Linked DNA regions of Homo sapiens: regions 2, 3 and 4 are each linked to region 1. Evidence: fine-mapped expression QTL. A gene starts in region 1. Each other region holds a variant in brackets. All regions are shown on one strand. Distances are between the middles of the regions.

Region 1 (8,107 bases):
GGACAGAAATCTTTTCCCTGTCAGGAAATCTCAAAGCAGGTCCGTGTCGAAGGGACAGTCACCAGTTGCTGGTGAAAACGACGACATAGAGGGACTTCATAACACCAGAAAGGGCTTGCATTGCAAAGGGGCTTGGCCTGAACCAGACAGCTGTGTCTGCCTGGAAGGCATCTCTCCCAAGGCCAGGATTTCAACATCAAAACCAAGGCCAAGAGATATGGGGGCCCCATGTGTGCTATCAAAAATAGTGTATATTTACAGCGGGGGATGGGGAGGGCAGGCAGGGCTGCCCTTAGCATTTTTCTTTAAAAAGAGAGAGAGAGTTGGGAATGGAAGGGGAATTAGCCAGGGCTAGGTAACCCCCATCCATTAACCTTTTGTGAGCCATGCCCTTGTAGTCCAGTGCTTGCTCTGAAGAGCTGTGAGGGCTGTACCAGGCGAAGAGGGTGAAAATACCTTTAGGAAGCAATAGTGATTAGGGGTGGCCCACTAGGAAGATGGCTCCAGGTCAAGAGTGGCCAAACCAACAACTGGGGATGTGTGGGCCTGGCAGCAAGAAGCTTCCCTTGTAGGAGCAGCAGACGCCCGCCCGCAGGAGGCTGCAGAGCCACCCCAGACGAGGAAACGCAGAGCAGGCAGCGCCCGGGTTTCTGAGTGCCCTGGGGCTAAGCACCCCTCGATGCCCCCCGCTGCCTGCAGTCAGCGTGAGTCTACGCGGGCGCCAGCGGAAACCTCACACGATCCGCTTCCTGTCCCCCCGACAGAGGATCTTCTTGAAGGCGCGGCGGAAATCGTGGTTGAAGATGGTGTAGATGACCGGGTTCAACGAGCTGTTGCAGTAGCCGAACCAGAAGAAGAATTTGAAGAGCGTGCGTGGCACGGAGCACCCGACGGCCGTGAGCGTGTAGGTGAAGAAGAAGGGGAACCAGCACACCACGAACACTCCGATGACCACGGCCAGCACGAACGTGAAGCGCTTCTCGCGGTTCTGCCGCCCGCGCCAGCGCGACGCCTTGGCAGCCCCGACGCGCTCCTCCCCCGGCCCTGCAGCCGGCGTCCCGATCCCCGTCGCCCCCGGCCCGCGCCGCGGCAGGCTGTCGCCCGGCTTCACCTGGCTCGCTCGGGCCTTGCCTTTGCCCCGGGGACCGCGCTCGGGTCTGCGGGGCCCTGGAGGCCGCTCGGCGTGGTCGGAAGACGAGCTCTCCTCCAGGTCCAGCGCGTCGGTGTCGCGCGGCCCGGCCGGCGCGGGCTCGCCAGGGGCGCCGTTGAGCTGGGTGGGCAGCGGTTCGGCCTCTGCGCCCCCCGGGCCCGCGCTGCGCTCGGGGCCCAGACCGTTGGGCCTGCGCTCGGTGCCCCCCGGCGGCGCGGCGACGGCGTCCGGACCCCGGCGGCTGGGTGGCACGCGGGTGCGACGCTTGGCGATCTGGTAGATGCGCACGTAGACCAGGATCATGATGAGGCAGGGAGCGAAGAAGGAGCCGATGCACGACGAGATGACGTACCACTTCTGGTCGTTGATCTCGCAGCGCGGCTCGGCCGGCTGCGGGCCGCCGCCGCCGCCCTTCTTCTCGATGGAGATGAGCGGCGGGAAGGAGATGACGGCCGAGATGACCCACACGGTGATGATGATGGCCTTGATGCGGCGCGGCGTGCGCTTCAGGTTGTACTCGATGGCCTGTGTGATGGACCAGTAGCGGTCCAGGCTGATGGCGCACAGGTGCACGATGGACGACGTGCAGAAGAGCACGTCGAGCGCCAGGTAGATCTCGCACCAAGCCTTGCCGAAGTACCAGTAGCCCATGACCTCGTTGGCCAGCGAGAAAGGGATGACGAGCGTGGCCACCAGGATGTCGGCCGAGGCCAGAGACACCAGGAAGAGGTTTTGGGGCGCCTTGAGCGCGCGGCTCGTGAACACGGCGATGATGACGAGCACGTTGCCGAACACGGTGAGCAGCATGAGCAGGCCGGCCAGGCACACCAGCGTCAGCGTCACCTGCAGGGAGTAAGGGGTGGCCCGGGCGCCGCCCCCCGGCGCCTCGGTCCCGTTCCAGCTCGCGTTGCCCGCGTCCGGCTGCAGGGAGCCCATGGGCGCAAAGCTGCCCTCGGCCAACGGCTGCTCCTGGCGGAACATGAACGCGGGCGCCCGCTGGCCTGGGCCTGCTGCCAGCTGCCTTCCGGCCCGGCGCCCGTGGGTCCTCCTCTTCCTCCGGCGCCCCGCTCGCCTGGCTGCGGCTCACATAGGGAGGGGGCCGCAGGGAGGCCGGGCCCGAACTGGAGGACCGCTAGCGGCCCATGGCCCGGGTCCCGCGAACTGCGCCTGGCTCGCGCTTCAGACGCTCTCGGTGGGCGCCTTCTTGCTCCGAGCTCCTAATACAGCCAAGTTTTATTTCTAAGCGGCGGGAGAGAGTAGGGAGAGCCGATGGGTAAAGAGAGATTTATTCTTCAAGAAGGGAGAACAAAAATCATCGGTGGCCTGATAACTTGGAAGGATGACAGGAAATTAAATATATATATACATATCAATATCTGTATCTTGAATCTTGAGCCTGAGCGAAAGCAAGAGGTCTTACCGTGTGCGGGGCCCGCCCCCACCCCGGGAGGCAGCCGAAGGGTGCTGATGCGAGCTCGGGGGTCCTATGTCTGTCGCCTTACATCCCCGAAGCGATTACCGACTCTCTGGCTTCCCCCAGACGCTGCGGTTCTGGCCCGGCCCGGCCCGGGGCTGGGGCGCGGACTCTGCCGCCTCTCGGAGCGCCGCGAGACTTCCAAAGTTGTGCGCCCTGCTGGGGCTGGGGCACACTGTGCGGAGCTCCGGGACGGCGGCGGCGGCGGGGTGAGGAGTGTGGGGGCCGCATGAAGGCACCCCCGTCCTCAGGCGGGCCGGGGCAGGTGAACGATCAGCTCTCCAGGAGCCGCGACGGAGGCAGGGGTTCTCCTGGGCGTCCGCCTGGTGGGCGCCGAGCGCTGCTGGATGGGCCGGGGTCCGACGACAGCGCGAGTTGGGGCAGGAGCGCAAGGCGGGGAAGAAGGCGCTGGAGTGGCCGGGCGGCGGCACGCCGGCTGCTGGGCTTCTGCACCGAGCTGGAGCTGCTGCTGCTCCGCTGCGCTCACGGTGGACTCGTTTTATAGCCCCAGGATCAAGCAAGCGTTGCTGAGCAGCCGGCGTCAGCCCCCACGTGGGAAGCCGACCCTCCCCCGCCCCTCGCACCACCCCTCCGCCAGTCTAGCGCCCGCGCCTAGCGCTGGACCTCGGGGAGCGTTGCCCTCAGGCGGGACGAGCCCTTTGGAGAGGCGGGTACCTTGAGCTAGAGACTTAAAGAGGGAGCCCGGGGGTGGGGGGTAGGGGAGGAGCGGCCCCTGCTGGGAGTTGGCCATGCAGCTCCGGGCCGACGGAGCAGAACGCAACGGGCACCCGTGAGTGCCCCCAAGAAGCTGGATCTTGGGAGAAAAGGGAAGAAAAAAATGGAAGGGAATCCCCGCCCAAATCGAGGGAAGTAACCTCCGGTGTGAGTTACGTCTGGAGCAGCCCAGCTCCGGGCCAGAGCCGACGCGGTCCGCAGGTGCTCCTGGAGGCTGGGGAGAAAGGGGTCCTGGAGAGGGAGGAAGGCGCGGCTTCGGATGGAACCCCTGGGGCGGAATGGACAGCACCCACGGGGAAGTGGTACAAGCCGGAGTTCAGACCTCCGCTTAGGGAAGAAGCGGCTACGTGTCCTCCCAGCCGCGATGCTGTCTGCGGGAAACGCAAGACCCGGGGTCTGGACCGCGCCCCCTTAGACCGAGGTGGGGAGGGGTCCAGGAGCCGAGCGCCAGGGCAAAGCGAGGACGCACTGACACCTGCTGGCCGCTCGTGGTCACGGCTGAGAAGCGACCCGCTGACGCCAGGCGCCTCCTCCCGTCTCTTAGGTCTTCTGCCAACAGAGCCTTCTCCTATCTCCGAACAAATTGGTTTCTAAGCTCAGGAAAGGAGAACCCAGAGTTTGAATTGCACCCTGCCGTGTTGCAGAAATCTTCCTAAAGCAGATACTCGTGTGTCTACCCCTGGCGGGAGTGGGGGTTTGTCTAATAAAGTCACATCAGGAAGGGCTCAGCAGGCACCGCCGGCCAGAACGGGCATCCCACTCTGGACCCGCACAGCCCACCCTTCCTGCAGATCCGAGAGAGGCCAGGATCCTGCCTCCTTGGTTGCACAGCTCTGGCTTGCTGGGAATCATTATGTTTTTGTTGAGGACCGAAAGCTAGACTCCACTCCCGCCCCGCATCCCACCCCCATTCAGATGTACACACAGCATCCTTCAATAAGGGGAAGAGGGAGTAGAATATTTTCCATGTTCTCTCTGATAAGAATAGCGGTGGGGGCGGGGGGGAGTGGGTGTGCGGCGAATGGCAAGTTTTTCCGTGCGTGCTAGCTGTCCTAGGATAGATTTTAACGGTCACTAGAGCACTAGCTTGCACCCTGCTAGCTGCACTTTTCAGATGAGAGCAAGCAGTTTAATGGTAAAACCCAAGAGGGTAGGAAATTTCAGCAGGAGAGAGATTAGACTTAAAGGAATGTCGTCTTATTTAAGGAACCACTAAACCAAAATGCCTTGTGCAGTCACCTAAGTTGGAATTCCAAGGATGGAACAGGCTGCCTCTCTGTGCAGCCAGCTGCAGGCTTAGGTCTGGCTGGGGGCTGATGGCTAAATTAAGGGCCCTGAGAATCACCTTCATTCCCAGCTGATGTCTATAGCCCGCACCAGTGATACAGTTATTGGTGCTGCTGCTGTTCATGTAGTCTCAAAATCTGTACTTTCCAAAGTATTTCACAGAAGTCTCATTTGACTTCAGTACCTTTGTCTCCCAATCTTTGCCCTAATGGTATAAACTCCCTTTCCAGTGTTAGTTCTGAGGAGCCTTTCTAATCTCCCTTTCTGGACAATCTAAAGGAAGCTGAGAAGACAATTTCCTCGCTCTGTTGAGTCACTCATTTTCCATCTTCTACTAAAGTCTCTGCTCTGAGGCTCTTGGCAGGGGCTTTGGACATCGCCAGTAGGCTCAGTTGGAAACATGGCTACAGTCATTTTTGCACAGCAACTAGGAACCCCACACTTCAAGTATGAATACTAAGAGACAAAAATCAGAGCCCGTGGCAATCTGGGGTTTGCTGTGTTGCTGTTTGTAGAACTCGGGAACTGAGTCTTAGGAGACCATCACTTACCATCTGCACCCCAGCTTCCAACACACTGCTCTTCTTCCTAATTTCAGAATCAAAAGAGGAAATAAAAACAAAGTTTACAGTAATTATCTTTCTTGAAATTTCTGCTGCTAGCCTGTGTATGACACCTCTTGTCATATTTTCTAAATGCTTCCCAAACAGCCAGGTGGTTTCTTAATTCCCTGATTTGGAGTCTTTTCTCCTAAAATGGGAACAGGTCTTTTCAGAGCCAGGAACCCTGAGGCCAATACACAACGAATACCAATAATAACAAGTGCTGCATTTTATTAAGTACCATGATGTATGCACCATGTGTAGGGTGATATACATGGCCCCTTTATACACAGAGTTCTTATTCCTGTCACATGTTCCTTATCACCAAAGGTTCTGCCTCCTCAGTTTGTCACACAGGGTCAGTATCTCTGAGCTTTGAAAAGCTATGTGGACACCATTAATTTTTGCTAGAAGATTTCATGCTGTGCAAGCTGAGTGAGACATTGCTGAGCAGAAAGATATCCACAAATATAATAATTCTCAACCAGGCCTATAGATCAGCATTTCCTAGGAAGACAAAATACACTTACCAATGCCCCACCAGGGAAATTATTCACCAGGTCCAAGGTGGGATGCAGCATGTGTATTTTGACAAAACTCCTTGAGAGCTGCAGGTGTGCACACCCTGCTGAAGACTTACCACCCAAAGCAATAAATCTCAGTGGGGGACAGGAGTGATGAGCAAGTGCCCTTGTGGGGACAGGAGGCAGTGTCCAAATTACCCGGGGTAGGAAGCCAACTTGAGCTAGAAAGAGTGGGCCCCAGATTGAGAATCACTGCCCTGAGCCAGTGAGACTGCTATGACAGTGTCATAGCCCTCCAGGGAGCTGGGACAGAGCAAATAGTTGAGAGCCACTGTAAATATGGAGTTTGGGTTTGATGGCCTGAGAAGGAGTCATTTCTGGGGACCCAAATGGGGGTCCATTATTACTTATATTATTACTAAAAATAAATAGTACCTATTAGCACCAACCACATGCTAGGCACAATGCCAAGCAGTTTATGTACTATATATTATATAATTCCCAAAACAATCCCATAATGTAGATTTTATTATCTGCCTTTGTAGATGGAGGAAACTAGGCAACAGACTAAGTAAACTGTCCAGCTAATAAGTGGCAAGGACAGAGCCGAACTCTATTTTTCCTGGTGGTAAGCCCAATGAGCTTTCTAAGTTCCTTACTGTGAATCTCCAGCCTTGATCGCACTGCCAAAGAGAAACCTGCAAAATGTTCATCAGAAATGAGCACATTGACAAGTTAGCACATCCTCCTTCTAGCCCTGTCCTTTCAGTCCATTGATGTCTACTAGATTAGGACAGTACAAGGCAAGATGTATTCCCTCTTTCTGTATCTAATGCCCACTCTTGGAGGCAACGTCACATACACTCTAGGAGACTGACCATTCCCCAACAGCCAAGCTGATGGAGAGCAAGCACTACACCAACTGGTTAGGCAACCCCTCCTCCTCCTAGTAGAAGCAACCTCTCTCTCTCATGGGTGCCATACATATTTTATCATGGCTTAGATGGACTTTTCTTGCTCTAGCTTATCTATTCATTTGTATGATGATCTAGCAGGTAGAAAGGACTGTCCTTTTCATCTCTATTCCTAGAGCATCTCTAAAACAGGCTTTTTAAAAATCATATTTCTAGTACCTACTCCTTGGAGATTCTGATTCAGTAGGATGAAGGCGGGGCCTGGGTGTTTGCATTTTTAACAAGTGCATGAGTAATTCAATAAATACCAAAATATAACACACAGAGCATGGATACTTGATAAATGTGTGATGGATGAATGTATGAATGAATGAATTCTACTTACACTGAAGCTATCAAAGAGGCAAGAGGGGCCCAGAAGTTGGTGAAGTTGGTGACTACGATGGCTAGCATTTTATTCCAAAATCAGGATTTCTTAATAGTTGAGGTAGCTTAACTAGTTCAAGGATATAAGTATAGGATTCTCTCATTCTCTTTTTTCCTAAAAGGAATATGTAAGTAGAGGAAGATAAATTTATAACTATCAGCTAGGTAATTTGCCAATAAAAGAAAGCTTCTTAAGATAAATCATCTGTCCTCATGTTATATCTGAAACTAAAGTATCAGGCAATACCAAAATTTGTCTTGGCTTCTATGTCTTTGATGGTGACTTCATCTAACAAAAGTGAGGGAGCTGGCTGGGAGAGAATATTAATTGCTTACTTTTTGAAAAAAAAAGACTTGACTGTCTAAGAAAAAGAAAACATGACTCATTTAGCCTGGACTCCTAGGCTGTGACAAAATCCTCACAGATAGAAGCAATTTGGTCACACACACACATAAACACAGGCCACCCCCCCACCCACCCACCCCTGCCCCCACCACAGCCTGAACTTAAACACACACTTGCTAGTCTGAACATGATGAACAGGTGGGGAATGCAATGTTCCCGCTACTACTCATGCCGTGTGCACAGCTGGAACCAAATGCTGCAGTAAGCTACAATCATCTGTCAACTCACTGTATTGCTGACAAGGGGAAGGGGGGAGTCAATAGGGAAAACTCTATTGCTTCCTCTAAGCTATTACTTAATTCCTCCACTTCTTTGTACCTGTGCTGAAGCCCTTGGGAATCCCATCGTTATTGAAGGTTAATGGAAGCCAAAAGAAAAGCATCAACTCCAGGGGTGCTGTAAGGAGCTGCCTTATTCACCACCTACCATGTTCATCATTTGACTGCTGGATCAGTCTTGCTGTATTCACAAAAACAAGCGATGAGTCCTGCCATCGCCTTTATCTCTTTCTAACGTGCTAACCCATCCTGCCCCAGCCTGGAAAATTAAGCCAGGTGTTTTCTATCTCTGCAAGGGCTTCTGGCCAATA
Region 2 (8,107 bases), 130 kb before region 1:
CACACACACATGTTTTCTACTTCTGTCTGCTAAGACAATGATATCCAGGTTGCAGTGAGCACACCTTGCACCCAGAACTTGGTTTCTAATTACCATTTCTCAATAAAAGAAGTAAGAGCTCCTTGGAGAACAGGTTGATACCACGTTTGAGGCAGGATAAATGAAAGATGAGTCTGCATCTTCTTCTGACGTCAGAAATTAAAGAAGTGCTTTTTAAAAAGATGGTGCCATGTTGAAAGAGCACAGACGCCAACCTGAAAGAATTCCTAGTAGCCAAAATTAGAATAACTTGAGCAACAAAACAAGTAGGGGTAGAACTGAATTACACCCCCAGTTAATAAAATAAATCTCCATAGGTCCATGTTAAGACAAATTAAAAAAGAGAGAAAGGGAAACAAGACAACTTTTCTTTACAGAAGAAATTTCAGTTTGTGAATGTGGAAGAATCAGGGAAATACAAAATCACTATTAAAACACCACAAAAATAATCAATGCAGACAAGATCCATAAAAAGATGCTAAAATGAGTGGGGAGAAATTTAAGCAGAAACTGAATATTTATATAGTTTCAAAGTATCTCCAAAATTCTTAGTAATTAAAAAGGGGACTATAGTAGCTTTACAGTGAAGGATCCTGACAGATGCCACTTTAACCAAGGAATTGAGGTCAACATCATCAGTAGTATTTATCAATATCATGTGCTTCCTGGTGCAAGGCACTGAGAAAGGCACACCACCTCTGCAGCATCTCCCCAATAATACATAAGCTCAGTATAATCAGGAGAAAATGTTAAAACAACCTGAACTGAGGGAACCATCTACAAAATAACTGACCAGTGCTCCTCAAAAGTGTTGAGGTCACCAAAGACAAAGAAAGAAAGAGAAATTGTCACAGATTGAAGGAGATAGAGGAAATACAGAAATAAATGCCACATGGGATCTGATTGGATCTTAGAATAGAGAAAGGACATTAGTGGAGAAATGGCTGAAGTCTGAATAAATTCTGTAGTTTAATGATACTGTACCAAGGTTAATTTCAGAGATTATTATTTTATGGTTATGTAAAACACTAATATACAGGGAGGCAGGGTAAAGGGTTTACTGGCCTTCTTGGTAATATTTTTGGAACTTTCCTGTAAGCGTAAAATTTTCCAAAAATAAAGTTAAAATAGATTAAATGGAACATTTTTAACACTGTTGTAAAATATTTTTCAAAAAGATAAACATAAGTATAGAAGCTCCGAGTCAATAAAAGGATAATTTAGAAAAAAATTGGTTTTAGACATATTTAAACAGAATTTTATGAAATAAAAATATAATCACTGAAATTTAAAGAAAAAGAGAAAACATAGGTAAATGACTGGTTAAACTGTAGACATAGCCAACCAAAGAGAGTATCAGTAAATGGACATTCAATATCAAAATTTACTGAAAGTATTGCATAGAGATAGCAGATGGGGAATGTGAAAGAGAAGTAAGGAGTATGGAATAAAGAGCAAGAAGTAAGGAAAATAGATGATGAAGGAAAGGATACATCCAAAAACATGACGTAGGAATTTTTCAGGGTAAAAGAGAGATTCCTCAGATTCAAAAATCATTAGTCATGATCAGGATAAATTTAAGCAGCTTCAGAATTTTTAACCCAAACCTTTATGAGAAACAAGTTTATCAACTAGAGTATTATGTTTGTGTGCAATTCTTTTGCCTGTTTTACTAGATACACTGCATTCCAAGGTTCCTTCGGTTAACTCCTTTCTTCCCTTCAGTGGAATTACGTGATTTGTTTTAAATGCAGTTACATTCCTTTGCCCTAAGTCTGCATTCTAACTCACCCACACACACATACAGACACCCTGGTTGATTTTTCTATATTTACATACAGTAAAATATATTCTTTGTGGTTTGTCATTCTATGCATTTTAAGAAATACACAATCACGTGCCCCACCACCACACTTCCATACAGAAGAGATCTACATATGATTTACAGACTATAATTATCTCCATTTTACATATGAGTAAATGGGAGGAAAAAGAGGTAAGTAACTTTGCCTGAGGTCATCCAACTAGTAAGCAAAGAGCTAGACTTACGTTTGGGCAGTCTTGGCCCCAGAACGCCAGCTGAAAAATTCTATGCTACCCTTGGGTTTCCACACCCAGCCCAAGTCTACATGAACATTTGATTGCCAGAAACCCTGCCACCAAGGGATCCCAAAGGTGCAGGTGCAGGTGCTGAAGTCCACTGCTACGGGATGTTGAGAACCTGACCCAACCTTCTGGGAAAAGAGTCATGAGTACACAAAGAGCACTTCTTTCAAACTGTCAAATAGCTTGAGATTGGAGAACAAAGGAGACACATCTTGATTTCTAGCTTCATATTTCCTGAGGATTAGATTAATCTTCTAGCCTGTGACCCTTTGAAGGTACAGATGACATTGTATTCATCTCTATATTCCTATTACTTAGCAAATGGCCGAAGATTAATCTACATTTCTTGAATGAATGCATGCAGCAATCAATGAAAGGTTATAAATTTAAATATCAAGAGCTACCAGAGAAAAGTTATGGACCATAAGATTTTCTCCCTCTTTCAAATGACATTCTATATCCTTCTCATCACATGGGAAACATTATACCCCAATCCTCCAGTCCTACTAACAGGGTCTCAGGCACCATGGTCTCCACAGTCTGCATAGGCTGTAGATATACTTGACCTGTTAGCTAAATTATAGATAATGGCGTGGGGCTTAGTGTTTCTCTGAAGCTCTTTCAGCCACATGGAACTATGTGGTAATGCAAGTCAATGTGAAACAAACATATGAATAGATGATGGGGGATGGATGGATGGATGAACCAAAAGATTCCAACACATTTTAAATAAAAAGCTACACTTACACAGGATTTTTTGGTTCTCTTTTATAGCCATATCCCCAGTGCCTACCACATGCCTTATGCACAATAGTTTCTCAATAAATATTTATTGAGTAAAAGAGGAATGAAAAGGAAATGGCTGATAAGTTGTCACCGCTACCAAACACTAAAAGGTAGAGGCATTCTTAGCTTGTTCATATATATATATATAGAGAGAGAGAGAGACAGGGTCTCACTCTGTTGCCCAAGTGGTACAATCATTACTTAACTGCAGCCTTGACCTCCCAGGCTAAAGTGACCCACCCGCCTCAGCCTCTGGAGTAGCTGGGACTACAGGCATGTGCCACCACACTCAGCTAATTTTTTGTATTTTTAGTAGAGATGGGGTTTTGCCATGTTGCCCAGGCTGGTCTCAAATTCCTACACTGAAGTCATCCACCCACCTCAACCTCCCAAAGTGCTGGGATTACAGGCATAAGCCACCACGCCCAGCTTGTCCATATAATTACATAAGCTAAGCTGTACCTCAGCTTCTCTAACAATTTCTGCTAAGACTTATGAGACATTTCAAAGAGCTGATCCTTGTAGGCTGATGTTTGCATATCCAGCCTATATAATGTGGGAATATCTCGAAGTTAAACAGATTTTCTAAAGCCCTAGTAAAAGAATGCAAAGGAGAGGAAGAAACTTCCCAAGGGTCAATAAGACGATCTACTGAGATACCATCAACTTTCTTCACTGCACTCACCAGAATCTGCAGGCAATAATGTTCAGAGACACAACACTCCTCACATAATCAGAAGATAAAGCATTGCTAATGACATCCAGGGAGACCCTCACTAGAGCAAATTGGCCTGGATGGAAAGCAAATTTGCATGGCAAGGCAAGCAGCCAACAGGCTGTAGTGGCAGATGCTCTATGCCTGACCGTGTAAAACAGAATCATAGTTTCAACGTGCATCACTTCCTTTGGTCCTGTTGAGTTCTGGGAACGTGAGGGCAGATTCTCAATTCCACCTTCCAGCATAGCCTTCTACTCAATAATTCCTTATGCAGGATCATGTTTATTGAATCAATAAGCGCATACACTGTCCTTGAAATCAGTGTGAATATGCTCAATTTAAAAATAACTGGAGTGTTGCTTGGTCCCCAGGGTATTCCCTGAAGAACTCCTGCCAAGGAGAGGGTCTGCTTCTCAGGGGTAAGAATTTATAAAGGAGACAGCATTTCATGAATCATAAATTTCTGTAGAAGCAAGTTTTCTCTTTAGGACCTGCAAGACCACAATCAATAGTGAGCTTTGAATAAAGTTCTTCATAGAGACAGCATGCAAATGCTGTCCCTCAGAATCTGAAAATTAGGATTCAAGG[T/C]ACCCTGCCTGTTCATGGTGGAGTAGGGCTTTGTTAGCAAAACCCAATTTCAATGTTTGTCCAAACTCACCAAGCACACTCCTGTGAATCACTCATGCCAACTCTGCAGAGCCCATCTACTGTGGAACCTGGTACATTTCTGGTACAGAGCCGTCCAGGAAATTCTCTGTCCTGTCACTCATTCCCTTTGTCTCACAAGAGGAGCATTTTCCTCCACCATGGTCCTCAGGAAGACAAGCCCCTCTCAGAACAGTAGATGGCTCTGAAGCTGAGGGAACACGAGGCACATTCACAAATACCAAATTCACTACAAATTACACAGAGGGACCAGGAAAGCTGCCCTGCAATGTGCTGGAGTCTTGCCCTGTCACCGTCCACTACCCTGAATGGAGGGAATGGCTGCATCATGAAGTTGTGCTGGTCATTCTGTTTGCTTCCTTGGCATCAATCTCCATCCTTCTCTGCCCTGGGGGTGGCCTCCAGGAAATGCATCTTCAGGGCTCCTTTGCTGCCTGCCTACCAGCAGGCAAGAAGATTCGAGGGTCGGGTAGGGGTCAGAGGGCCCTCTTTGGGCCACTGTGCTGGCAGGGTCTTCTCCCCTCTGCACGTCAGCCCCTACTGGGCAGCCACTTCTCCCCCCTCAGCTCTCACTGGGTTCCAATAACACTGTTCTCTGACCTTGATGCTTCAAGCCAAGAGGTGGTAAAGACCCCTGCTCTTGCTTGTCTGTGGGTGCCTCAATATCCCTTGTTGATCCTCATAACCCTGCCCATTGCTCTGAAAGTCTTCCTTTCACCAAATCATCCATCAGACTTGTGTTTCCTGGCAGGGCTCTGGCTGGTGGAGAGGTGCCATGGAAAAGGTATTCATCTTGGATTAAGGGAAGCTGAGTTCTGAACGCTGCTCTGCTTCTGACTAGCTGTGTGATCTTGAGGAAACCACTTCACCTCTCTGGGCCTCAGCTGCCTCATCATCAAAATGTGGAGGGTGAATAGTCCAGGGGAGCCCTCACCACCCTCTGGGCTCCCTTTTACACACACACACACACACCAGCAGTCCCAGTGGCATGCCTCCAGAACCCCAGGGCTGTGAAGGCTGTGTTTGAAAGCTATAGTCACTCTTATTCTATTATTGACTTTGATATTTGATATACGATTAGATGACCTTCTCTGGAGAACTTACCGAATGACTATGACAGCAATGCACTTAAGAGACACTGCTTAGGGATTTACAGGCTACCCTGGAGGAGCATGCTGGGGCACCAATTGCACCACACATTGTTCCCCTCCTATGGCAAGGAGGCCAGCCTTCCTCCATGTCATCTGCCATGCCTGGGGCTGTCAGAGGTAGGGAGAGTGGAGGGGATGCTCTGTGATGAGACACCTGTACCCCTGAGGACAGGTCTCAGGAGAAGGCCACAGCTGTGCACCCTCAAGGCCGAGACTCTCAGCACCTGGGGTGGAGGGATGGGGGGCCTCCCACAGCAGCCACTCCTGCAACCCCTCTGTTTCTAAGCACCCCATGGCTTCCCAAGTGCTTTCCTGTTAATCACCTGCCGTGATGCTTGCAGCATCCTTGTGAGGGCAGCTACATTTGACAATTACATTTGACAAGTAATAGACAAGCACGTTTGCGGTACCTGAAGAGTCAGAGGCCTTCCCCAAAGTCATCCAGCCCAGCCAACAGGGGGCACTGGAACCAAACTCCAGGCGCTGTGCATCTTTTCCGGAACTAAACATTCAATTCATGTAGATGATTAAACTAAATTACTGGCTTTGAGGGCTTCATATTTGGAATGAAGCCAACCTTTGTGTGTTTCCATTCATGATGAGAAGCATGTCCCCTGGCTCTTCTCCACATTGGTCACAGGCCTACCCTGAAATGAAGACAGCTGTCTGTGAACCTTGACCTCTTATGTGTACTTCCCAAGTGCTTTTGTGAAGGTAATCTCACACAGGTGGGGCTGCTTTGGCCAAGGTCACAAAGCTATTTTCCTCCCCAACCAAGTTTGGTCTAGAGTTCATGTCCCTTGATTCTCAGTCTGGTGCTGTTTCTATCCCCCTCATTGTCCTTTAGTCATTCAACAAACATGTGTAGAGACCTACCATGGACCAGGCCAGTGCTAGCAGCTGGGTGAAGGAAGAGTGGTGAGCAAGGTCCAGTCCCCACCCTTAAAGGAGTTTAGAGGCTGGTGGGAAAATTGATGCAAAGGAATTGCTGTGATGAAAGTGTGTGTCCAGTGTGCTGGGACACAAAGGAGGAGCACTTCAGCCTTCTTTGCTGAGACTGTGCAGAGGTGCAGGGGAAGGGCTGAGGCTGGAAGCTTTTGAGGATGAGTAGGTGTCCTCCAGGTGGAGCACGGTGGGAGGAAGCAGCATTCTGAGGAATAGAAGGAGCTACCTGGGCAAAGGCATGAGTACGCATGACCCACATGATAGCTCAGCATGGCAGAAGCATCCAGTTCAAGGGGCATGGCCGTGATGACCTGGGACAGGTCGTCAGGAGCCCAGGAACAGAGTAACTTCTCTAAGTCCATAAGTAGAGCAGCAATTTCCTGGGGAGGGGACCACAATGAAATTTGGGCTTCAGAGCCATCAAAGGATTTTCAAGTGAGTCATAGCAGTATACCTCTGCAATGACAGCCTCACCCAGGCATGGTGTCTGAGACTTTGACCAAAAAGGTTGGAAAACCACAACAACAAAATAATAACACTTACTAGAGCAGCTGACAGACATACAGCACTTAGCATGCCAAGCACCAGAATGAGCCTTCCCTAGTGTTATGAACAGAGTTTTATTGCAACATGTCTGACTTGTCTCACTCTGTGCAAAGAAGATGTGAACAGGCTTTAAAAAATAGTCACCCCTGCTGTTATGGCTATCAGGCTCAGCTCTCTCAGGAAGCTGCTCTGAGCCTAGTAGGATGAACTCACCTCTGGGTCTCCTGAACCTTGGCTGAGAACCTAACATCCTCAAGATGAGTTGCCAAGAGTTTCCTGAGTTCTATGCTTTGCCTCCTTGGTGAGTCTGGGGCTCCTGGGGCCAGAGATCACATATGTACCCTTCATATCACTGAGAGCTATACTGCACACATTGAGGATGTTGAATAAACAAAGATGGATGGAGGTGGCTCCCTCCTCTACCCCAAACACAGCTACAAGGTACAAGCTGTGCGTGTCCTTCCTGACAGCTTGTCTGTCCAATGTGTCTCCCCAGGAGGGACAGCATTGATTCCCTGGCATCTTACCTTCCTGTGATCAATTTCTCTTGACATTTGTCAGACTCTAACACCTCTTCTGCCGCCCTTCAAGGGGCGGGTTCTTTCCATGGAAACTGTGAACACAGCCCATTTGAAGGGAGATGGCTGTTTCCTTCTGTTTTTCCTCCACTTTTTAGTGGAGAAAAATCAAGGCAAAGGAGACCAGAAAGAAGAGGAGCTAAACAACTGCAGAGAAACAAAAACGCTAGGTGCAGGGTTTCAAGTACTGGATGTTCTCAAACGGTCAGAAGGTAGCCTAGCAGGGGCTTAGAGTTAGCCACTTCCTACATGGTGATTTTCTCCCCAACCTCTGGTAGAGCCTGGAGTTCCATGTTACAGAGTCATCCCTATGGATTCTGAGTGTTTTCCCATCTCTTTCCTCTGTCAGTAGCCAGGAAGGTGGTTATTAAACCATAAACACTTAGTAGCCAAGATCTCAGAAATTAATTTAGCATATGCTGCTAACTTGTCCTCATGAAAGTGGGACTGCAATATGGACTACAGAGAAAGCAAGACTCCAGGAAGGTGGAAAAATCAGAAGAAGGAAGGGATATCCAACACACCCTGAGTAGGCATCCATCCTATGCCAAATGCTTAACAGGCATGATCCA
Region 3 (8,107 bases), 230 kb after region 1:
CAAATGTAAATTTCTGATATACTAAAGATGCAATTATAAATATATGGAGCCATAAAAGTATTATAAGCAAACAGAGGAAAATAATTACATAACATCAGCATGGGGAGACTGCTTACACAAGACAGGAAACCCAGAAGCCATGAAGAAAACTATTATAGATTTGAATATTGAAACATTTTAAACTTCCACATGATGAAAGACAGCACAAAGTTTAAAAAAATGATAGACCTAGGTAAAATATTTGCAACACTTAAAACATGAAAGATTAATATTCCTAATATCAAACACAGACCTCTGGCAGTTCAGTACCTGCTTCAGACCCTGATACTCACCCCTGGGAGCTTCAAAACACAGTGTCTTTTCTCTCTGCCAACAGATGTTTATGCTTAATGTACAAAAAGTGCCTATAAGTAAGAACAACTCAAACATCCAAATAGATAAATAGGAAAGAAATATAAACAAAGAATTCACAGAGGAAAGGCAAATGGCCCATAAACATAAAAAGATGTTCTCTGTTGTCAAGGAAATGCAATAATTAAAAACTTGATAGTACAGAGTGCTTGCAAGGATATCTGGAGTTCTCTCACACACTGCTAATGCAAGTGTAGACTGGCACAACTTTGGGAGGAAGGTGATTTCATAGAATCTACTAAAATGTTAAATGTGTGTCCTTTTTGACCCAGCAACCCCATGTTCAGTACTCTGTCTTACAGAAATAATAACACAGATTCATAAACCTGTACATCCATTGCAGCAAGATTTGTAATAGAAAAACATTTAAACCAAGAAAAACATCCATCAGTAGGTTGTGTTAATTATCATTTATCCATATTAGGGAATATTATACAGTCACTGAATAGTACAATATTTTATCTGTGTTGACTTGAAATGATATACACATATTGTTGAATAGAAACAAAGCAAGTGTCAGATCAATATGTACAGTAATATGTAGCTTGTGAAAATATGCATGTGTATCTATATCTATACATATTTGTGTCAGTATAAGCCTAGGGAAAATCTGGAGGTATTTGAACCAAAGCATTATTAATACAAGTCTGGGAAGGGTATTGGATTGGTGAGGAAGAAGACTCTTCTCTTTACACGCATTTTTTATAGTTGAAAGTATTCTCTCTGCTTTGTATGTAAATTTACTGAGGCTTATAGAAGTTGTCATTGCCAAGGTCAAATAATGGAGCTACTGAGTAGCAGAACCAGGCTCTGGGTGAGGTTCATTCGGCCCCAAAGCCCATGTTCATTTCACATTGCTAGGCTGCTCCCGAGGTATAGGGTTAGCAAGAATAGCTTACAGGATTCTATCTGAGATCTTAAGGACCCAGGCAGACAAGATTAAGTCTATGACTAGCCCTAGAGGCATTGCTTGGATGTTTCTGGAAGCAGAGGAGAAAGGGTGAGTTGCAGGGATGTCCTGGGGACACACCCTGCTTTCAACTTTTGCCTCTGTTCCTGGAGGTGCTAGGCGGTAGTCACTGAGTGATCTAGATTGCCTTTCTGGGATGCTTTTTTTCTTCCTCTCTGTACCGTTTCCTCAGTGGTAAGTTGTGAGAAAGATGATGTGCCTGTTGTCTTATCCACAGATTTTCTGAGAGGACAAAAGGCGATTACTGTGGACTCCTCTAAAGGCTGCAGCCATAAGGAAAAAAAAATTTCTAATCTGAAGAAATGAAACGAAGCTACAAATGAAACAAAGAAATGAAACAAAGTTATAAATGAAACAAAGTTACAAAGAAGTACTTAGCCTCCTGAGAGGACCATCCCTGCACCCTTGCTGTGCTCAGGAGTCTTGAGCTCTTAGAGGCTAAGGCGTCTCATTAGCTACCCTAGGCAGAAAATGTGAAGAAGGCCTTAGCAGGCAGCTTTGCCCTGGGATGCCGCTCTCCACCTTGTTTTTCATGTGCTGGTGCTGCTTTTGCCTAACTCTCTGACCAACTGCCTGAATCAATATGACAGAGCAGCCCTATCCTGGTTGACATTCCTGGACTTGGCTTTTCCCCTGCTGGTCTCATGGCACTCACCTGATCCTTCCTCCCGGTAGGTTTCACACAGAGCACTTCTAGGTAGCCGTGCCCTGGGCAATGTGACTCACTGACCAGCTGACACACTTCAAATTCCAAAGCTGTCAGGGTTCACTTTGACTCATCATCCTATCGACATGTACATGCAGGCTGATCAATTTCCAGTGACCTGCCTCTGGATAGTAAAGTCCCTGAGGACAGTGACCATGTCCATGTGTCCGCTTTGTTCACCAATTGCACACTCAGGACCATAGAAGACTCCTAGAAGAACCTGGTGACTAAATGAATATAGGAAGAATCTACTTAGGCTCCCTTTTCCCCTGCCATATAAAACAGCTTAAGTCATTGAAGATAATCCACTTGAGCGGGGATTGGCAGACATTTTCTGTAAGCAATCAGCTAGTACATCTGGGCAACATAGTAAGACCTCGCCCCTACAAAATAAATTAAAAATCAGCTGGGCATGGTGGCAAGTACCTATAGTCCAGCTATTTGGGAGGCTGAGGTGGGAGGATTGCTTGAGCCTGGCAGGGTAATAAGCCTGATGGCACCACAGCACTCCAACCTTGGCAACAGAGTGAGACTCTGTCTCAAAACAAATCTGGGATTCCCAGGCAAGTGGCAAAATCGAGGTTATGATATAGGTACTTAAAAAGCAGAAGAGAAAACAAATTCCTATGATATTTGTATTAGTGAAGTTCAAAGTATAATAATGAATACAGTTTTTAGATAAAACATATCTCCTAATAAGAAGATTAAAATTCTTTTTTCATAAATAGCATTTTCCTTAGTTGGGGCTCAAAGTGTTCTATCATTAAAATCAATTGCAAATGTTCATCTGCTAATGCTGATGTGTAAAGAGATTTTATGTATTTCATATTTGATTTTCATATAATTCGCATATGTCATAAAATATTCTTTTAATTTTTTTATTGATTCTTAGCTTGAGGGCAGCACAAAAACAGACAGTGGGCTGGATTTGGCTTCAGGCTGTAGTTTGTCAGCCCCTGCACTTGAGGATACTAGAGAGTAAAGTATTCTCATTCTCTCTCTCGCTCTCTCTCTTTCTGGCCTCAATCTTCCAAGTCCTGCATTTTCTAAAACCTTGGGGTTTCCAAGACACTTTCACTCCTGTTCTTGGTGCCCCTTCCTTCTCAAAGAAGGAAACACAAGTCTGAGCCTGACAACTCCAGAGAATACGTCCCAGGGGCTTCGTTATTTCCCAACTGAGCAGAGTCAGAGCTGCTAAAGGCCTTTCCTTTTCCAAAGCTGGCATTAGGTCTCTGTCAACCACACAAAAACCGCTGGGAAGGGCTTGCCTGTGCTGCTTCTCCACCTCAAACCACAGAAGAAGGGCGGCCTCAGAGAGGCTGGGTAATGGGAAACAGT[T/C]GTGCTTGCCCAGCCCCGCTCACGGAGGGAACATAATCAAATGCATAAAATCTCACTGCATCCTGAAAAACATATCATTTTGGGAAGACAACTGACCACAGCACAGAGTTCAGTGTTGGCAAAATAACATAAATAATGCACTACAAGGACCTCACCTTTTGTAAATATAGAGAATACTAAGGAGATCAGATACTTGTGAAAGCATCAATCATTCATGGATTCATTAATCTATTCAACAAATTTTTCAAGGGTCTCTCATGTGTCAGGCACCGTATCAGGCCATGAGCATACTGCACACTGCAGAAAATAAGACAGTCTCTGCTGTCATGAAGTTTGTAATGGTGTTTAAGAGCATTTGCTAAAGCTCAGTGTTCCATGGTACATTATAAATATTTCTTGAATTAAAATGATTGCATGGTGAAATAGTTGGGGAAAACAGGGGTTAATAAAATAACCAGGTTACTTGATTGTGAAACCTTTCTGTGTGGCTTTCCATTGAGAGTCTCAAGAGAGAAGTATATAGAATGCAGCCTTCCCAAGCTTATTTAACTGTGGCATTCTTTTGTGAGTTGTATTTTGTGGCACCAGAGTCACATGGAACATAGTTTGGAGAGCACAGCTCTCAGGACCACTGGGCACACCCATGTAGGTTGTGCACTGAACAACTCTGATGGGACCACTCTCATAGACTACCATATTACATGGTGCCCTGGAGCTGTATGACAGTGGACATGATCTCTGTAACTACAGGGCAGAGCATGGGCAGCACAGCGTTCATTTGACTACCGCTCAGCCTCCTAGCCTCTCACTTTTTCCCACAGAACAGCAAAGGTGCTAGTGGTTTTACCCACCATTGTTTTTGCCCCATCAGTGTGAATGTCAACACAGTGAGAAAGGCAAATAAAATCTCAATGTGGTTATAAAAATAGTTTTGACTTCATGCAGGGATCTGCAGACCACACTTCGAGAACCATTGACTTACAGCTAGCAACCTCAGAATTAGAGTGTGTCTTTTTGATGGTACTGACAAAATCACAGGGAACATTTTGATTGGCCCATTTGGATTATGTTCCTCATCCTGAATCAATTGCTGTGATGAGGAGGATGAGGTTCTCTGATTAATCAGGCTTGGATCATGTGAACACCTCTCTGGGAAGGACAGGACAGATGGGCCCATGCAAATCACAGGGAATGGGTTCCCGCAATAAGCAGTGGTTTTCTTGCAGGAACAAGAGGGAAGGGATATTGCACAGGCAAAAATAACTTATGTAAAACATCAGTTCAATAGGGTAAAAGAAGTTAGTGCCTAGGCTAGTGGCTGGGCCTATTCCTGGGAGAACCTGAGGCCAGCACCAGGCAGGAGAATGGATTAAAGGTGATGAAAAGATTCTTAGGCAGGATCCCTGCCCCTGAGGGCACCATGTCCTGCAGCCAGTCTGGCTTAGCCCAGCAGGCAGGATGAGGCAACCAGACCCAGGTTTGGTCAGGTTGTGTGTGTGTCTGCAGTGGTGGGTACTATGTGTGTTTGCAAGGGCAGGTGCTTCTCTCTGTGGCTCCCATCAACAATGTTGGGGTATGACTGTTTATATGTTCCCTATCTTAGCCAGACTTGATTCAGGAATTGGAATCCAGTGGGTCTTCAGGCATGGCTGATAGATCAAGGCAAAAGGGATTCAGATATTAGAAGCTGGGGATGGAGAATGATTCTCTAGACCATTCATAAGTCAATGGAAATTCATTATGTCACACCAGCCATTGCAGTTTAAAAATGGCACTCACTCAAATGCGATTTGACCTGTCTGAGCTTTTTCACTTTTGCCATTTAACACTCTGAATCTACTTACTTACTCTCAGAATTACTGAAACACTGAACTAATACAACCAATCAGGAGCATTCAACTCTAGTAAACAAAACTCTTCACTCCTGAAATATTCTCATTCTCAGATGTCCTCGATGCCATACTTTTCCCAGATTTCCTCCTAATTCTCTGGCCGCTGCTTCTCAGGCTCTTTGCATATCCCTCAGATGATGGAAGTCTTTAAGGGCTCTGCCATAAAACCTCCTTCCCTTCAGGCAATCTGATCTGTCCCCAGTCTCTAAAGACATTTCTTTCTTAAACCACTGCAAACCACACTGCCTTCTGCATGCACAAATATGTTCTTTGTGTACTAAGTCTCCATCAATACTCTCCTCAAGAGCCTGGGATAATCAGAGCAATCAATACACTATGGGCACCAACGCTATCGTAAACCTAAACATACATGGGTGGGTGTGGGGGGTGGAGGGGTCAAGTCATTTGACCATCCAGATGTCCAGACTATGGTATGGGTATGGGGGAATGTGTGGATATGGTTCTGTGCATATGCCTATTTTTCTTTTTTCTTTTTTTGAGATGGAGCCTCGCTGTCTTGCCCAGGCTGGAGTGCAGTGGTGCAATCTCAGCTCAATGCAACCTCTGCCTCCTGGGTTCAAGTGATTCTCCTGCCTCAGCCTCCCAAGTAGCTGGGTTTACAGGCGCACATCGCCATGACCAGCTAAGTTTTGTATTTTAGTAGAGATGGGGTTTCACCATGTTGGCCAGGCTGGTCTCAAACTCCTGACCTCAAGTTATCTGCCTGCCTTGGCCTCCCAAAGGAATGGGATTACAGTTGTGAGCCACTGTGCCTGGCTGCATGTACCTATTTTTCTACCCATCTTTCAGATTGTCATTAAAATGAAAAAAAAAAAAATCTATGAAGACTAGGAGAGGACTTGACTACAGCCCCTTGAGAATACGTGATTGCTCAACCTTTAACTGCTTAAATGAGTTTGTCTTATGTGCAGGCACATGCAGTAGGTGCTATGAGGGCTACAGGGTGAAAACAGGGTGAGGAGGAGAGGACCTGACCCAGATGCACGACTGTCAGCAGAAGAAGTTTAAGAGCCCCATGCAGTCCAGTCCCAGCATGTTGTGTATTAAAAAATCTAAAAGAACTTTATCCATATATTTTAATACACACAATTTTTTTTACATTTTAACATTCCTGAAACTAGGATGTATTTAACAAATGTGTGTTAGAGTTTAATTGACTGTGTCGTTTTCTTTCTTAATTGTACAAAAAATAAAGATGAGAGAGTTACAATTGATGCCCTCTTAGATGAAAAATATTATTCGGATCTTTCAAAGAACATAAAGTGAGATCAGATATGCAATACATAGCAACATGTCGTTAAATCTCTCCTTTTTTTGGAGATTTAACCCAGAAGCCTCACATTCTCTCTCTACTCTCCACCAAAACACCTCAAAACATCCCTGACTGCTTCCCCAGAAAGAGTGTGAGAGTGTGTTCTCTTTCTTCCTCCCCCGCTTTTTCCTCTTCTCTCTGGAAGTCCATCTCAACCATCCTTGGTGGGCCTCTCCCCAGCCCCGCTCCTCTGGCTCTTCCCCAACCCTGCTGATTGAGCTGCTCTACTTAATAAGAAAAAGAGAGAGGAGTAAATGCTTGGCAGTTAAAATTTTCTTTAGCAAGGATGAGGAAAGAGATAGAGGCTTTGCATAGTCCCACAGGAATACTTGTTGAACCAGGAGCCAAAAGAAACAGGCAGATAGAGCGGCTGCAGCCCAGGGCCAGGATGGATGGGAGTGTTACCTGTGATGGGGCATCCCGGGAAGGCTCAGATTTGAAACTGCCAAACGTGACAGCTCTCAGGGAGCTTCATATGCACGCATACACACTTGCACACATGCACATGTGGACAGACACAGGCACTTGCACACACGTGTTTAAATAATAGGTTGATGTCTTTCTCTGCTACGTCACACCAGGAGGGAAGGAGGCTGGGCCAGGATGATGGTCTCATTTCCAGAGAGGAAAAGGCCTGGGGGTGAGGAGGGGAGGTAGGGGGAAAAGGAAGTGACCCAATCAAGTCACCCTGCAATTCAGTGGAAGAAGCAGGATGGGCAGCATAGGGTTCATATGGCTTTCCTGGGCTGGCTGGGCTGTCTCAGGTGGGAAATCTGGGCTGCAGAGAGCTTGGGGGATTTGTCTCATCCCAAAGCAGAAGGGTTGCATTAGCCTAGCTGGCTCGAGACCAAGGCATCAGAGGGGCCGAAGTCACACACCTATCCCCACACCTGAAGTAAAAACTAGCCACAAAAGGCTGGACAACATGCTGATGAGTGGCCTCCCCCAGATGAAGAAGCCTCATAACTGGGGAAATGTGGAGCTGGAAGGAGGAAGGGGCAGCAGGAAGGCAGCCTACGGGGAGAAGATCATGCTTCCCCAGGACCTTAGGAAAAACAAGGGAAAAGCTGGGAGGATGAGTCTACAGAGAGAGGGAGGAAGGGAGCCCCACTTTGGCCACCCAGCTGCACCCTAGTGTTTGGGTCCTTGGCCCCTATAGTGTCCAGCAGCCAGCTGTGGAGTCTCAGTGTTCTCATGGTTGGAGAAGACCCCTGGGAGAGCTCAGGAGGCTCTTGCTGATGTGGGTGGGCTGCACCCTGACTGGCCAGTTCCCACCTCTCTGAGCTGAACGCTGTTGCTGTGACAGGATCATGCAAGAAGCCAGTCCTGGGTATGCTGAGTGTGCCATGCCCTTTGCTGGGTGCTCAGCAATGGGAATATAAATAAGGGGAGAGGCTGTGCTCAGGAGGAGCTCAGGAAGAAATCGTGTGTCAACACAGGTGCAGCTGAAGTCCAAA
Region 4 (8,107 bases), 74 kb before region 1:
TCCAGAATCTACAAGGAAATTGAACAAATTCACAAGAAAAAAAATCAACAACCCTATCAAAAAGTGGGTGAAGGATATGAACAGACACTACTCAAAAGAAGCCATTTATGCAGCCAACAAACATATGAAAAAAGCTCATCATCACTGGTCATTAGAGAAATGCAAATCAAAACCACAATGAGATATCATCTTACGCCAGTCAGAATGGCAATTATTAAAAAGTCAGGAAACAACAGATGCTGGCGAGGCTGTGGAGAAATAGGAACATTTTTACACTGTTGGTGGGAGTGTAAATTAGTTCAACCATTCTGGAAGACAGTGTGGAAATTCCTCAAGGATCTAAGAACCAGAAGTACCATTTGACCCAGCAATCCCATTACTGGGTATATACCCAAAGGATTATAAATCAAGCTACTATAAAGACACATGCACGTGTATGTTTATTACAGCACTATTTACAATACCGAAGACATGGAACCAACCCAAATGCCCATCAATGATAGACTGGATAAAGAAATCGTGGCACATATACACCATGGAATACTATGCAGCCCCAAAGAAGAATGAGTTCATGTCCTTCGCAGGGACATGGATGAAGCTGGAAGCCATCATTCTCAGCAAACTAACACAGGAACAGAAAACCAAACACTGCATGTTCTCACTTATAAGTGAAAGTTGAACAATGAGAACACATGGACGCAGGGAAGGGAACAACACATGCTGGGGCCTGTTGGGGCACTGGGGTGTAAAGGGAGGGAGAGCATGAGGACAAATACCTAATGCATGTGGTGCTTAAAACCTAGATGACGGGTTGATAGGTGCAGCAAACCACCATGGCACATGTATAGCTATGTAACAAACCTGTACATTCTGCACATGTATCCCAGAACTTAAAGTAAATTGAAAAAAAAAATAGAAAAGGCAAAAAATAAAAATAAAAAAATAAATTATCTTCCAGCCATAGGCCATTCAATTGATCAGTAATCTTGTTTATCCCTATCAGGATTGCAAGGGAGGTAGGAGATGAGAACCCAGGAGAGTGACAGTAGACACAAGCCTTTCTACTGCACAGCTATTACCAAAGGATCAGGACTTGCATCTTCTGAAAGAGAAGTTCAAAACAGGCAGGGTTGAGGAGTGTTTATTTTTCCTTTTATTGTTTTAGAAACAGCAGGAGGTAATCAGCTTGTGAATTAAATAGAGACACTTGTGTGGTTCTACCTGCGACCTCCCAGCTTGCTGTACATAGCTCAGATTGCTTTTAATAAAGCAATAGTATAAAGGGGTATAAGCACCACACTCACACATGAAATGGAGAGTCGTACCAGCTCTTCCTGCTGCCCTCCCACACCGCTCCTCTATGCTTGATTCCCTGCTACCCAAGAGTAGAAGCACTGTGCTCTCAGACAGGTGAGAATGAATGGACTGCCTGCAGCCAGAATTTACCTAAATGCCACAGCATCTAGAGGAACAGGTAAGAGCAGCTTCTAGGGGAAAAAAATCCTTCAAGATTGAAGTGTTCCTTGTAGTTCCCTGTGAATTCGCAATACTGAGGAAAATGATCACAAACAGGCACAAAAAGAAATCAGTGTGGGAACACACACACACAAAAAAAGGAAAACGATGATAGTCACAAGGGTGGGCACCTGCTCTGAGTGTCAGGGAGGGCCACTCTGAGGGTGTGACACTTGGGTCAAAGCCTGGAGGATATGTGGAAGGCAGCTTCCAGCAAAGGGAGCACAAAAGGCGGCATCAGCAGTACACACCACGTGAAGCCCTTCCCAGCCAGGTAAAGGGAAAGGAGAGAACGGACATTCGTTAAGGAGCTGAGCACCAGGCAGTTCCATCTCATCTGCATGCCTGAAACGGTGGGTGCACATGCACGTGTGTAGTTGTATTGAAAATGTTTCATGTTCCTTCCATAGCTGGAGCTTTTTTTAAATGTATTTAGCAAGCTCAAGACAGGCCCAGAGCATGGAAATAAATGACCAGATGAATATGTCAGCCGGGTTCAGCAGGCCATGTCAACAGACCATAGAAAACCATTCCTCGTCAACATCAAGTCTTCCTTTCCTTTTCACTCTGAGTGTCGCATCCCCCGGCTTTTCCTCTGCGCTCTGGGGAAACCTTCTGTCAGTCACCCACGGAGTGCAAGGCACCTTTCCCTCCAAACGGTTTGAAGCAGACAGAGCTCCCTCACATTTCACAATGAGCTCGGCCAGATTTATGCTGGGTCATTGAGCTCCATTAAGGTTGCCATGGTTACTCCAGGCCTGTATTACCTGGACTTCTGATGTGCTGGATGCAGGGGCAACAACTGCTTTGCTTCTTCTGTAATTTGCCAGAAAAGTGGCAGAGAGGCTCAAAAGGTAGAAATGCTGGACAAGAAAGGTGCCAGAGTTTAGAGAGATGGTTGGTGGGGAGAACATATCATCCACCAATGGAAAATGAGGCTCTTTCCTAAACCCACCAACCTGTGAACGCCACCAGGGTAGGGCCTCAGACAGATAAATCTTGGTATCCCCTACCACCTACAACAGGGCCTAGCACATAACAGATGCTCAACAAATGTGATTGATTGATTTTGAAAAAAAAGTAAGAAAAGTAAAAAAGGAAAGAAAAAAAAGTAGCCTAAGAATTCAAACAAAGAATCCATCTTGGACACTCCTGTTATAAGAAGTCAGGGGATAACGAGGAGATTACAGGTAAAACTATGCCTCTCTCACTGCAAACCAAAGATCACAGACAAGGAAAATTTTCCAGGTAAGAGAAAGGACACGAATATGTTGGAAGGCAGGCATGTCAGTTTCAGTCCTCCAAGAAATAAATGTCAAGAGAGCAATAGATATGCAAGAGATTTATTTGGGGAAATGTCTGTAAAGCATAGAAGAAAAGGGAGCAGGAGAGGAGAGGAGAATGTTTGGGTCACAATGCAGGTCTAACACCAACAACAGGAGAAAAAGGGAAAAAGGAAGATTGGCTAGAAAGAGCCTCAGAGTGTAGACCAGCTCTGGGAAAGTCTCTGCCGGGTGGATCAAGAGGCTCCGAGCAAAGGTTGCCCATTCGAGGAGTCCCACACCGAGCAGGAATGGCCAACTCTAGTGTCCTCACTGTGCTCAGTCACTGGCTGGGTGGGGCCCACAGGAAGCGTGGTCTCAGCATGAACGTCACAGTGGACCCAAAAGT[A/G]GGCAGCTGAGTCTCTTCAGCAACTGTGCTCCCCACAGAGAAGATATCTGTGAGCAAAGCATCTCCGTGACCACCCAGGGGCTGCAGGAGTAGAAGAGGGTTGGGGAGGAAGCAGAAGAAGATCCTTGGGAGGCTACAAGCTGGAAGGAATGTGGTTGGAGGTGAAGGGTATGTCTTCAGGGCACAGGGGCAGGGCAAGAGGTGGCTGGGAGGCTGTGCTTATCCTTGCTGTTTGTCTACCCAATGTCTGTTCTGCCCTTCTTGCTTAAGCATAAAACCTCTCTATGTCCCTTTAGATCCCCTTGCATCTGGAAGCAGCCATGTGGCCCAATTATGGCCAGTAAGGTATAAACATGGAAAGAAAATTCTGCTGGATGTTCCTAATAAAAAGAGACTAGCAAGTGCCTGATGCCCTCCCCTCTTCTCCTCCTTCCTACCTGCACCATGGATCTGAGGCCAACAGGGAAAACAGTCATCTTGCTACCATGAGATAACAAGCAGGGGAATGAAAACCACATGCTAGAGATGGTGGAGTGCAAAGATAGGTCACACCTGGAAAACTGACACCATGGCAGAGCTGCTGCCCGTGGCAATCCCACCTCCAGAATTCTTGTTATGTGAGAAAAATAAACCCACCTGGGGTTAAGCCATGACGTCAAGCTAGCATCCCATGCAGCCAAATGCAAATCCTAAATAATCCAAAGGAGACTCAGGTGGAGGGCTGCTCCCAGGTGAGCCACGGGCCTACCTCCCCATCTTTCAGAAAATCAGCATTATTCATCACTGCAGCTGAATATCCTTGGCAGGATCAGAGCTCTGAGGGGAGCGGGCATGACAAAGTCACTCTGTCTTACCAATGGACAAGTCCCAAACTCTGCCCTCAGGTAGTTTGCAATCTAATTAAGGAAACCGAGCAGAGAAATTATCCGCTGGTCTTAGTATTCACTTCTACATTCTATAGTTTCATCACTATCAGCTTGGCTTTTCATTCCTCTGCCACTGTCTTACCCACATGCACACTAACCGTGACAGACTTCAATAAGAGCTGCATCATCCTTTCCCCTTTTCACCCAGGGAAGGCTTGGAATCCTCCCTGCCCTCCAGGCAACGCCTACCACTCTGTTAAGGTTGGCCCTTGAAATGAGACCTATTTATCTGGCTTGATGTTATCTGCAAACTTGAAGATTTCAGACCACAAAAGAGTTAAAATATACCTTTTCCCATCTCAACAGACTTATGACAATTTACCCCTAGAGACCCTCAGAAAATTTGCCTCCCAGATACCAGTGATAGTAAAGAGGCATCCAAATCCACCCATCCCCCCTCACTAGCACTGGAAAGCGATCCAACCCTTCAACTGGTCTACCAGCAGGAACTCCTGCTTCCAAAGCTTGGGAAGAGGCCTGGCACAAAGCAATTACCCTGCTAGATCCCCTTGCATCTGGAAGCAGCCATGTGACCCAATTCTGGCCAGTGAGATATAAACACACGGAAAGAGAATTCTGCTGGATGTTCCTGATAAAAAGAGACTAGCAAGTGTCTGATGCCCTCCCCTCTTCTCCTTCCTACCTGGACCATGGATCTGAAGCCAACAGGGAAAGCAGTCATCTTGCCACCACGTGACAACGAGCAGGGGAATGAAAACCACATGCTAGAGATGGTGGAGTGCAAAGATAGGTCACACCTGGAAAACTGACACCATGGCAGAGCTGCTGCCCGTGGCAATTCCACCTCCAGAATTCTCGTTATGTGAGAAAAAATAAATCCACCTGGGGTTAAGCCACGAAGTCAAGCTAGCATCCCATGCAGCCAAATGCAAATCCCAAATAATCCAAAGGAGACTCAGGTGGAGGGCTGCTCCAAGGTGAGCCACGAGCCTACCTCCCCGTCTTTCAGAAAAATCAGCATTATTCATCACCACAGCTGAATATCCTTGGCAGGATCAGAGCTCTGAGGGGAGCAGACATGACAAAGTCACTGTCTTATGAATGGACAAGTCCCAAACTCTGCCCTCAGGTAGTTTGCAATCTAACTGAGGAAACAGAGCAGAGAAATTCTCCACTGGTCGTCGTATTCACCTTTACATTCTATAGTTTCATCACTATCAGCTTGGCTTTTCATTCCTCTGCCACTTTCTTACCCACACGCACGCTAACCGTGACGGACTTTAGTAAGAGCTGCATCATCCTTTCCCCTTTCCACTCAGGGAAGGCTTGGAATCCTCTCTGCCCTCCAGGCAACCCCTACCACTCTGTTAAGGCTGGCCCTTGAAATGAGACCTATTTATCTGGCTTGATGTTATCTGCAAACTTGAAAATTTCAGACCGCAAAAACAGAGTTAAAATGTACTTTTCTCATATCAATGGACTTATGACAATTTACCCCTAGAGACCCTCAGCAAAGTATTTGCCTCCCAGATACCAGTGATAATAAAGAGGCACCCAAACCTACCCATCCCCCATCCCCCCTCACTAGCACTAGGAAGTGATCCAACCCTTCAACTGGTCTACCAGCAGGAACTCCTGCTTCCAAAGCTCGGGAAGAGGCCTGGCACAAAGCAATTACCCTGACAAACAACGGTACAGTTGGCAGTCATGGAAAAGAGATTTCCAGGCCACACTTCACCTGTCAGCACGTCAATCTCAGATGTCAGCAGCAATGTTGGCTTACCACCATGACTCCAAGGTCAGGCCCCGGAAATCTGATCAGCTCTCTGTGTTTCACAAAGACACAGCTCACCGTCCAGAAAATTAATTAAGGTCTCCATAGGAAACAGAAAATCCTAGTCTTTAAAAAGTAAAATCGACTCCTCTCCCCTCCTCCTCCTGTCCCCAGGAGACTTGCATAAGGTCAATCTTCTCATCTTAGCACAATTTCTATATCTCTTTCTAATTGCCTTCACAGAAAAAGTTCCCTCTGGACCGTCCTAGTTGTTTCTTCAATCTGGAGAAAAAAACCATTTGATGATTAATAATTATGTAATTCCATTTCCAATTCGGTGACCATTATCATTGGATGAGGTGACTGCAGAGTTGCAAAAATGAAGTCTATCAATAATTCTGACATCTAAGTCTTCAGTAAAAGGGGTGCCATGGGAGATAGGGTGGGGTTGTGAGCACTGCAGTCACTGTGTGGTTAAATGATTGGCATCCACCTTTTTCAGAGACTAAGAATAAACTTATCCCTATTAAGTAGAACAGATACCAGTGATAAAATCAGGGCAGTAGAAGCAAGCAAAAGCTGGCCCCTTGGAAAAGGTACCTAAGAAGAGGAGGCAGAAAAGGCAGGATGCTGTGTTCTGCTCCCTGCCACTTCACGTCCCACCCCCTACTGCCTTCTTTACCCAACATAAAAAGCCTCACTCCCAGGCAGACGTCAAACTCCCGGCTCCTTCACCCGGACTCTAACATCTTAGCCATTCCCCCTACCTGCTAGGCTTAGGTTTGCCAACTGCTCATCATTTACTGATCTCCTTCACAGCCTGGACCAGACTCTGTATCACTTGCTGTTATATAATGAGATGGTTTACAGGTCGGCTTAGCTATCTACAGTTCCCAGTTATTCCAACAAATACCAACCTAGGTGTTGCTGTGAAGGTATTTTGTAGATGCGATTAAGGCCCATAATGAGTTGAGTTTAAGTAAGAGATTATCCTAGGTAATCTGGGTGAGTCTGATTCAATCAGCCTTAAAAGCCTTAAGAGCCAAACTGAGGCTTCCTTGATGAAGAAGAAATTCCACCTGCAGACTCAAGAGTCAGCCCATGCTTCAGAGTTCCAGACTGCCCTTCCAGAAAGCCTGCAATGTGGATTTTGGAGTTGCCTAGCCAGACCACCCCCCAACCAAACGAGCCAATTCCTCACAATAGATCTCTTCCTATATATCTCCTATGCCTCTGTTTTTTCTGGTAGAACTCTGACAGATATGTATCATTAGAAAGTTTGCCTTCAATCCACTCACCTAATTTTACTAAAATAAATGTATTTTACACACAAAATTTACCTCCTTTCTATAAGGAGAAAACTAGCACCACCTTCCATAATAGAAGGAAGCCATAAAGAGAAATACAATAAAATCCAATTCAATGCCATGGAATTCCAGTTGGATGCTCCTGCCTCTCACAGGCTCCAAGCATTTGGAGCTGGCTCATCCTGCTAGTGTCAGAAAGAAAATGAAAGTTGGTCTGGTGCTGGGAGTTGTGTACATCAAGGACAAAGTCTCAGGGAGATTCTTATCAGAAGGAGTGATGGAGAATTGAGAAGAGAATATGTTTCCCACCACGTGATCCCTGTTATTTAATGCTATACCCATGTATGTCCCATCTGAAATCATCCCAGGTGCAACCAGAGGTTTCCATCCAGCACTTGCAGATACAAGACTCCAGGGTTGTGGGCAAGTAGCCAGGGAGCACATGAAAGGCTTTCATTCTCAGTGTCTGGAGCAATTGCCTTGATGTAACTGCAGGGGAGCTGCTAGTGCCAGAACAGACTAAACCCACATGCCCATCTTTACTATGCACCCTGAGAACACTGCCCAGCAGAAGGCTTTCTACTGACATATCAGGGTGGCAAGTTCATGCCCCTCCCTCAGTAGGGGAAGCAGCAGAAGCCACATCATCACATCCCTTCCTGAACAGCAGCAGGAGGCATCACCTCAAAACTCTCAGGTTGTGGCTTCTGGGGCTTCCTGTACCAAAGGGGAAAGGGTCCCAGGCCCCAGGAAGTAGTGTTCAGGAGGAAGTAGCCATTGGTGACTTCCCTGCCTCCTGAGAAACACTGGCTGTGTGCCTATCTGCCATGACATTGTTCTTCGAGCTCCACTCCCCATGTACAGGAACTGGATTAGTAGTACATCCTTCAGAGCTCTTTTCTAATACCCTGCCTGTGTTACTGGCTAATTTTTTGTTTGATCATTGGCTCCAG

Alleles and levels. Alleles are on the strand shown, and positions count from the first base shown. SD is a standard deviation of normalised expression in the study named. Not every link is listed here.
As copies of T replace C in region 2, the expression in caudate of the gene that starts at base 3,099 in region 1 goes down (small effect, 0.37 SD a copy in GTEx).
In carriers of allele C in region 3, the expression in prostate of the gene that starts at base 3,099 in region 1 tends to be lower than with T alone (moderate effect, 0.45 SD a copy in GTEx).

Evidence for each region.
Region 2: its variant is fine-mapped to the expression of ADRA2A in caudate (GTEx, PIP 0.98).
Region 3: its variant is fine-mapped to the expression of ADRA2A in prostate (GTEx, PIP above 0.99).
Region 4: its variant is fine-mapped to the expression of ADRA2A in whole blood (INTERVAL, PIP above 0.99).

Annotation. Positions count from the first base shown.
Region 1 is chr10:111,072,021-111,080,127 of GRCh38, reverse strand. It overlaps ADRA2A (adrenoceptor alpha 2A), which reads right to left and starts at 3,099. Exons shown (of 1, transcript NM_000681.4): 1 at 1-3,099. The coding sequence starts at 2,131. The coding sequence ends at 734. RefSeq lists a silencer at 3,087-3,136.
Region 2 is chr10:111,205,550-111,213,656 of GRCh38, reverse strand. No RefSeq gene overlaps it. Among named protein-coding and RNA genes, the nearest start is that of HEAT2, 95 kb to the right of the region's middle. The variant T/C (reference allele first, on the strand shown) is at 4,238.
Region 3 is chr10:110,846,433-110,854,539 of GRCh38, reverse strand. It overlaps LOC124902499 (a long non-coding RNA gene), which reads left to right. Exons shown (of 2, transcript XR_007062287.1): 2 at 1,599-3,900. Among named protein-coding and RNA genes, the nearest start is that of PDCD4-AS1, 20 kb to the left of the region's middle. RefSeq lists an enhancer at 1,697-1,746. The variant T/C (reference allele first, on the strand shown) is at 3,426.
Region 4 is chr10:111,145,916-111,154,022 of GRCh38, reverse strand. No RefSeq gene overlaps it. Among named protein-coding and RNA genes, the nearest start is that of HEAT2, 36 kb to the right of the region's middle. The variant A/G (reference allele first, on the strand shown) is at 3,187.